Linked DNA regions of Homo sapiens: region 2 is linked to region 1. Evidence: fine-mapped expression QTL. A gene starts in region 1. The other region holds a variant in brackets. All regions are shown on one strand. Distances are between the middles of the regions.

The links.
Region 2: its variant is fine-mapped to the expression of OR6K3 in lung (TOPMed, PIP 0.96).

What each region holds. Positions count from the first base shown.
Region 1 is chr1:158,718,453-158,722,861 of GRCh38, reverse strand. OR6K3 (olfactory receptor family 6 subfamily K member 3) reads left to right here and starts at 2,142. Exons shown (of 2, transcript NM_001005327.3): 1 at 2,142-2,179.
Region 2 is chr1:158,745,563-158,749,971 of GRCh38, reverse strand. No RefSeq gene overlaps it. Among named protein-coding and RNA genes, the nearest start is that of OR6K6, 7.0 kb to the left of the region's middle. The variant G/A (reference allele first, on the strand shown) is at 2,134.

The DNA.
Region 1 (4,409 bases):
ATATCAAAAGCACCAGTTGATTCTGTTTATTGGATAGTCCAGGAATGAACAAAAATATATATTGAAAATTTAACAGCAAAAAACAAAAATCAAAATTAAGTTAAACCAAAGCATTATATATCCTGGGGAAAAGAGTTCCCACAATTGACCTCCAAAGTTAAAACACTTCCTCAGGTATGAGTACATGAGATCCGACTGAGGGAAATACTTATCTGCCCGGTGTTGGACAAGAAAACAGAAGAGGAGAGCCTAGAAATTAACTGGATGAAATTCCACATACAACCGATGGAAAAAATAATTAAAGCTTGGAAAAACAGAAATTGAGAACGATGCTCTACTTGGGAAATCTGGATAGAGAGAATGGAGCCAAAGAATGTATGAAATTTCCCAGTCACAATGGAGTTATCCACTGAGCTGTGTTCAGAGAAGGACATGAAAAGTAAATCTTAAATTTACAAGCCAGAGAAGTGAGGAACTATCCAGGTAAACTGAGGCTACTAAAACAAAACAAAAAAGCACAACTTTTTAGCACAAAGCAATAATCTATAACTAATACTGAACTTCGTGGCAGATATTTCCATATTTGCTGTGCATATTTAGATATTTAATATTCTTATTTTTTGTATCCAAATATATTCTCTCCTTCTCTCTCACACACACAGACAAACACAGATTGCCTTCTTTAAAACAATGATTTTAGTTTTGCCATACACCGTTTGTATTAAAATCATTAACTTTGTCAAATGCATAGCCCAATAAGTAGTTGGATTACTACAGTTAAAGAGAGAGAGAGAGACTGAGAGAGACAGAGAGGTTAGGGAATTGAAAGTAAATGCTCTTTCATTACATAGACTAACTCTAAGACACAAATCATTAAAATGTTTCCTATTTAAAATTTTGATGAGATTTGTGAAGATATCAGAAAAAAAGTTGAGAAATAAAAAATACAAAATTTAATATACAATGGAGATATTGAAGAATATATTAAATACTACAGGAAATTAAATTAATGTTTTGTAAGATTGCCTGGAAGATATGTCCCAGAATTTAGAGAAGCCACATGAAGAGCCAAATATTACATGCAAAGAGAAAAAGTTATATATGGAGAATGTATTAATAGATATTACAGAGCAAAATATGATTATGAAAATTCTAGAAAAAAAACAAAACAGAGGAAAATAATAAGTAAAATTAAAGGAAAATATTTCTGAGCTTGAGAATACTTGAGTCATGGGATCAAAACAGACTGTTTTATATTATACAAAATCATTGGAAATACAATGTGGCCTGTTGACATTTTTGAATTAAAAAAAACCTACAAGTTAGACAACCAAAATAGGCTCCCAAATCGTAAGAAGAAAAGTTAGACAAAACTCAGAAAGCACGTCTTCCTATTTGAGAACTTGATACATATTTCCAGAAGAAGATGACATGATAAAAGTAATTAACTTTGAAAAAAATGAGAACTTTGCAATTTCAACAGATCAGTGGATGAAGCACAGATATAAATAATACTCTTGTAGAAAAGATGAGATATTGATCTTCAATAAAGAAGTCAGCAGAACCAGTGTGAGTTGTTCAAGGTAGGAAAGACCCATACACACTCACGACATGAGAAAAACAAAAAAAGACATGGTTTCCTCACTTTCTTCAGTATTGGCACTAAATCCCCAGTGCCATGTTTATTATGAAATGGCCTTATTTTCTGTAAAATAGCTTTTCAAGATGATCTTCTGGTGTCAGTATATTCCTTCCAGGCTTTCCAAATCTGTGTGTTCATATAAGAAGGCCAGGATCATGTCAAAACTACCCTTTGCATAGTACACTGGTACACTCAAGAACAGCTGAGACAATCATGAAAGTGCTAGAGAAGGAAGCTTACAAATTTGGGAAGATGAGTACAATCAGGAAAAATATATATATTTATTGACAACTTCGATCTGAAAATCTAACAAAAGGAGAGTAAGAGGGGAAACTTTCTGTTAATTAACCCCATGAGAGAAGGTGATTCACTTCAGTGCAGTGGAGGGGAAGAATCCTCCACAGAGCCCAGTTCCCTTTCCTGTTATTCCCTGGATGCCCTATGGAGAGACTATAAATCCCTTTTTGAAAAGGCTGAAGTAATATTAAGGATGCAGTGACCCAGGCAGACTGAGGAGTCCCTGTGTTTTTGGCAAAGGTGAGTGTAGATGACTAAGTCATAAAGAGACCGAATTCATTCACCATGCATAATCATCATCATCATCATCATCTCATAACCTGAAGACCTGATTATTAAAGAATTTAGAACTTTGAATAAGGGTGGAAGGCAAAGGTATTTACAGGAGGAAGCTCTGTTCAGTGTGGTTCTGGGCATGGGTATATATGAAACAGCATGCCACATTTATAATGCCATTTTCTGAGAGATCATCTAGTCAAGACTTGATTGAGGCTCTCATTAGAACTGAATTGTCATAGTTCCCTTTTCAAACAGTCCCCAATTTTCTTTGTTCACTTACTCATGGCTGTCTTGTGCACTTAGTTATAATTGTACCAAGTGGCTGAGTTCCAAGTTAATTTATTTGATACCTACCGTCTCTACATATTAACCCTGTTGTAGTCACTATGAGGGATAAAAGACATTCACTGTCCTGAAGGAGAAACCTATAGTCTAGAGAAGGTAAAACAAGTAAGTTGATGATGGATCCTGACAAACGCTTCAATAAAGCATAATGGCATTCAACACTTCCAAGTGTTTCCTATATTCCTAACACTAAGGTTTTAAAATACATTTACATGTATTGGTAGAGGCAGTCAACTGTATGTAGGTTAGAATGTGTCTCTAGAGATACAGTGCATAGATTTAAATTCTGACTTTGCCCTGCATTAGCCGAGAATTTCTGGACAAAGAACTTAACCTGTCTGTGCCTAAGTTTTCTCCTCTGTAAAATGGGGATAATCATTTCACCTCATTAGAGCATTAAGAGCATGAGGTGAAAAATATATACAATGTGCTTGGAATAGTGCCAGCATTAGTGACGTAATAATACCGTATACTATACTGTACAATTCTATTGTTATTATAAAATGTTTAGTTATTCTCAGGACTTCATTAACCAGTATTAATATTTTCTCAGTTTTACAAATGAGATATTAAAGGCATAGAGAAGCTAAGTAACTTCATGTTAAGTCACAGAGCTGGTAAGCCATAAAGAGAATTTAAATGCTAGCAATTTTTTTTCTGGCATCTAGACTTTTAACCAGCAGTATATATTGCTTTTGTGTGAGGAGAGGGGGCAGAGGAGGGAGAGATATGTTACTTTAAAGTCAGAGGAAGTAGCACAAACAGGAGAGAACTGTGATTTTAGAAAGCAACATGAACAATGGGATTGCAGGGGAGAGAGGAGTCGGAGAATGTTAGCAGGTGAAGCTACAGAGAGTTAAGAGTCAGATAGTTGGTGTGAAGCTTATGAAAGAGAGATTGGTTAGAGAAAAACATTTAGAAGTATTAATAGTTTAAATCCTGTAAGCGGATGAGATCACTAAGGGAGTGTATAAAACTATAAGAGGTTGAAGTGGATGATAGGAACCTGGGGAAAATAGACTCTTGGGAAAGAATTTAAGAAAGACAACACAAGCTAATATAAGAGAGAAGAGGCAGAATAAGAAAGAAAATATAAATAAAATAAATAAAACAGAAGCAAAAGTCAAAGCTAGAACTGCCTTTAAAGCTATCTGGGCGTCACGTCCCTTGAGAATGGAATCGTGGAAACAGAGGAACAAAGTCTCAAGCAGGAGTAATGAAAAGTGTCGAGTGCCAGAGATGACTGGATAGTTTCCATTAGTAATTAGCAGGGCATTGATGAACGTGATCAGTATAGTATCAGCATAATGCTCGGGAGGAAGCACACAGCAGTGTTAAAGGAGAACAAGAAATGCAGAGAGGTAGATTGTATCACTCTTTCCAGAAGTTGCCTATTAAACACTGTCCAAATCTTTCTGCAAGTATTTACTAAATCCTACAGCATCCTTGTTAGATAGGTACTATTTTTAATCCCATTTTGCAAATGATTACCTGATACTCTGAGGTATTAAGTAATTTTCCAAAAGACATATAGGTAACAATAGACAGGATTTCAATGTCAACTTCAGGTTTACATTGTAACACGTTAGAACAGAGATTTTCAAAGAGCATGTGCACAATGGCCCAGTCGGGTAGGGAAAGAGCATAATATAACTTCTGTTATGTTTATTCGTATTCATACTTTTTAATTTTAAAATTTATTATATGAGATACAGATATATAATTTTGTGTTATTATGCCTTAATATAGTAAATGTGTATAACTTATAAATGCAAATACCTATATTAGAGATTAAGCTAAAATAAAAATAATTTTAACTAGTTTTTTTATTATTAAAACATTTGGA
Region 2 (4,409 bases), 27 kb before region 1:
ATACCTATATAAAGAGATATATATTTAAAAATGGGTGTCCATCATAAAAAGTAAAACTTTGAAAATAAGAAAAAGAAACACACAGCATTAAGACCATAAAGAAGAAAGAATGAAATTAGTTAAAGATGATATAAAATTTCCAAATGAAAATAAAGACAAATTATAACACAAAGTTCAGCAAGTGCATAGATACAAATGGATATATTTAACATTGCATTATTATATGTAACAGTTGACAAAAAGTGTAATAAAAAGATGCCATTTGAAGTATCAACAAAAATAAAAAACTGTAAAAGATATGTTACATCTAAACATAGCACTTTATAAAACTGTATTGGACTATATCAAAAACATAAATAAATTGATCCATATGCTGTATGAATGAATAGAATGTCTCAGTTACATAAACATGCCAATCATCTACAAGTCAATCATTTCAACCCAATTTCAATCAAAATCTCATTTTGAGTAGAGAGGAGTGGGATATGTAAGAATGAGGGCCAAGAAGAAGACATTTCAAAGGAGGAGATTAAAATGGTGCCACTTGTCTATTTAGTAAAAGTTATTATGAAGCAATATTTGTAATAAAATAGCAGTGGGAGTAAACAGCCAATGGAAGCAAAGAAATAGACTAATATAGTATGGGATTTTAACATACGTGAGAGTAGGTATAGCAGACCACTGGGGAAAAGATGAACATAGCCAGCACAACAGGTCTGTGGAAAAAGGTGCATTGTTTAATCAATTGTATTGGAACTTTAGTTAAAATTTTTCAATTCCATATAAATATAAACCATAAATTTAAAGACTGATGAATAAAACTATTTAATAGTTCGTTTCATCAAATAGCATCATTAAAAAGAAAAACAACAAGATATACACTAGGAGTCTGTATTTGTAATAACGTTTATAACTGATTATTTTTATTTAGAATATACAAAAAGCTTCTACAAAGTAATAAGAAAAAGATAAACAACCAAATGAGGAGTACACACACACACACACACACACTCACACATACACACATACAACATTCAACTGCAAATCAAAGCAATAGCATATTGTTTACACAACAACTGAGTAGCAAAAATATGACCACCCAGAACATTAGAAAAGATGTGCAACAATAAAAATGCATTTATTGTTGGTGGTAGACAGATTCTGAAAAACAATTTGGCAGCATCTAGTGAAGTTGAAGATGCAAATATTCCAGAATACAAAACGTTGAAGGCTAATGAATGATTAAATTGTGCTCCATTTATACAAGACAGCAGGGATTTTCTTTTAAAGTTGCAGCTAGATACATTGATGTGAATGATTCTCAAAACATATGTTGAGTGAATAAGCAAATTATAAAGTAATGCCTAAAATACCATTCTATTTACATAGAGTAAAACAGAACTAAACAGTATATTGTTTTTGAGTGTGCACACATGTGCTAAATAGAATAATAAACACAAAATTCAGGTGAATGGTAATATGTAATATGGCAATAAAGAACTGGATTGGGGAGGAAAGTGTAGTGGTCTTCAAAGTTATTCATAATATTCTATCTCTTAAGTGGGGTTGTAGGTTCATGTGAACAAGAAGTGAAAAGGTGGAGACAGAAATACTGATAAAAGAGTAAACTATGCTTTTAGGAAAATAAGATCGGGAAGAAGAAAGGCAGTATGGCAGACTTAGAGCAACAATGAAAATGAGAAAGAGTATATACTTTAATATGTTTGAGCATATTCATAAGCTATATAAGCAGACTAAAAAGAGGAAAATTTGGAGGATACATAGGTAAGTGAGACAACTGAAGGAACAGTGTCTCTGCATGAGATGAGATAAATAGGTTCAAAGCGTAAGAGGAGGAATTTATCTTAAGTGGTAAGACTGGATAAAATCAGGGTCAAAAAGTAAACATCAGTGTGGCTACAAATTAGACTATCTTTGAGTCACTATCTGATTCTTTAGCTATTCGCCGATTCATTTAATTATTCGTTTATTTAGCTACATATTCCTTAATCGAATGCTTATTGAGGGACTGTCTTTATTTATTGTTATTGTTTTTTATTTTTATTTTTTAGAGACAGAATCTCACTCTATTGCTCCGGTTGAAGTGCAGTGGCTGCTTACAGGGGCGATCAC[G/A]GTGCACTGCAGCCTCGAAGTCATGGCCTCAATCAGTCCCCCTGCCTCCACTCAAGGATCTGCCTTAAAAATCGCCTATTAAAAATCTAATCATTCAGAGTCGAAAGTCACCTCTGCTCTGACTCATTTTTCGCACCATATATGCCTGTGTCTCATAAGTTTTTTTTTTCTAATTTCAAATATGCTTTCAAATTCTGTTGCATTTCTATATCCACTGCTACTGTTCCACTAAACATTTAACACTTCGTGATTGTTTTATATCTCTTTTTGTGATAGAAGAAAAAAATCTTATGTGTTGTATATGTCTATTTCTTCTGCCTTTACCCACCTGGAGGTTAATATTAAGTCCAATTTCAGTTTTTAAAAAGTAGGAAAAAAAGAATTAGAAAAGTATCCTTCTGCTTCTATTTCCTGTCCTCTATATGAGGGCCCTTTTTTTTTTTTTCCTCAGGTCTGTCCAAGGTCTAGCTCATGTGTGCTCATCAATACAGCTTTCATGTAGCAGGAAAGGTTGCCCTTCAATCCTTTCCTGACTCCATACACTTGGGATATCTGCTGCTGGAACCCCTGAAACCCATGAAATCTCATGAGAGCCCCCTCATTACTGCCACTACTGCAAATGGCCCTGTGATCCCTGGATCCTTCTGAAGAAATTCTACTAAGCTGTGCTGGATGGCAGCTGGCTGAATCTTCTGCAATACACTTCAGGGTTGTGCTGTGTGATCACTAAACTGCTCCAAAGAGTAGAGAAAATTCTCCTGCCTTTGAACCACATTGCGTTAGTTTCATTCCTTTTGTTCCTTATCCTTTCCCTTTCTCAGCAGATTTTGTAATTTAAACTATTCTTTTACCCCTTGGACAGAATGGAAAGCCAAGTACTCTTTTCATCTGATTTCTAGCCTGACTGAAAAACCTAGCTTCCCATAGGTGTGTTGACCTCATGAAAGGGGAGTGTGTCAGCAAGTGTTTTCCTAATTAGTCTCATGGGGCATAGAGTTGCTTTTCCCTAAGCCCCCCAGGAAAGAGCCCTTTAGAAGAAAGCCTTTCTCCCACTTAGCAATTCCCTGTGATGCTTAGAGGTGTGGCTGTGGTTACAACCTTCCTACTTATTGGGCTGCAGAGCAATGAAGATGGAGACATTTGGAAAAGAGGAGGTGGCTCTGTTGGTTTCTGGAAGAGGTAGCTATGGACTGATGGGTGGACTTTCTACTTTGAGATATGAGTGAATGACTTTGTTTACTAGATATTGGGGGACAATTTTCACAGAACCATATTATTTCCTATTGGACTTTAAAGAAGGACTTGTGGAAATTTTGTTGAGATTGTGACAACACATGAGGTAGAGGAAAGGACCATAACTTAGGGATGGAGGGCTTTGGTGAGTGTTTGTCCTACAATTAGAGATTGCCGTAAGATAACAAACACCTGGACTAAATCTGTCAAATTGTGTCTGGCCCACTAGCTCTATGACTCTTTCACAACTCTACTATTTTCTGAGCTAAATTCTAATCTAGGTTTGTATTGTATTTAGTGGCATCAGGACAGGCTCTTAAGAATAAAGGAATGTCAGGACAACTAGTGGAGCTTCTGGTTGAGATTCTGGGGTATCCATTCCTACAGAAAATAGGAGAGTCCTATTAGGTATAACTTTGCTCCCAAGACTCTATATCAAATTGCCTTCCTATAGGCATCCTCTTTCCTTCTTAAAGACTCAAGTTCCTAAAGACCTACCTTTTTAACAAAAATTTCCAGATTTCAATTTTCTAATTCCAAACGGTACTGGACATAGAGCTTAATGCTTCTTTCCCTGTTTGTCTCCCTACTGCCTCTGTAAGCAGAACACAGAACAATTACACGGGTATCATTTTCTATCATACTAGGAAAGCCTGTTGGGGATAATACAGTCATAAGATATTGGGATGACAAAATAATTTTACAATCTCATATACAGCCATATTATCTGTTCTGCTTAAAGGCTCAGGTTTGATTTGGAACCCTACAGAGAGCCAGTATAAGGTTTTCAGACAGAGGATTGACAGCTTTGCATTTAGGAAAGATTATTTCAGTAGCTATGTGAAAGTGAGATGTAGTAAGACAAGTCTGGAAACAATAAGCCCAGATAAGAGTAATTAAGGTAAAAATTGCTAGAGTATAAATTATTTTTTATGAGCCTCCATTTCTTATGTAAAAGTTTTCTTAAAGAAAAACAAGGGAATTTTCACCTCATATTTTCCTGTTTCAACATAGACTTACTATTTTGCTGTATGTATAAAAAG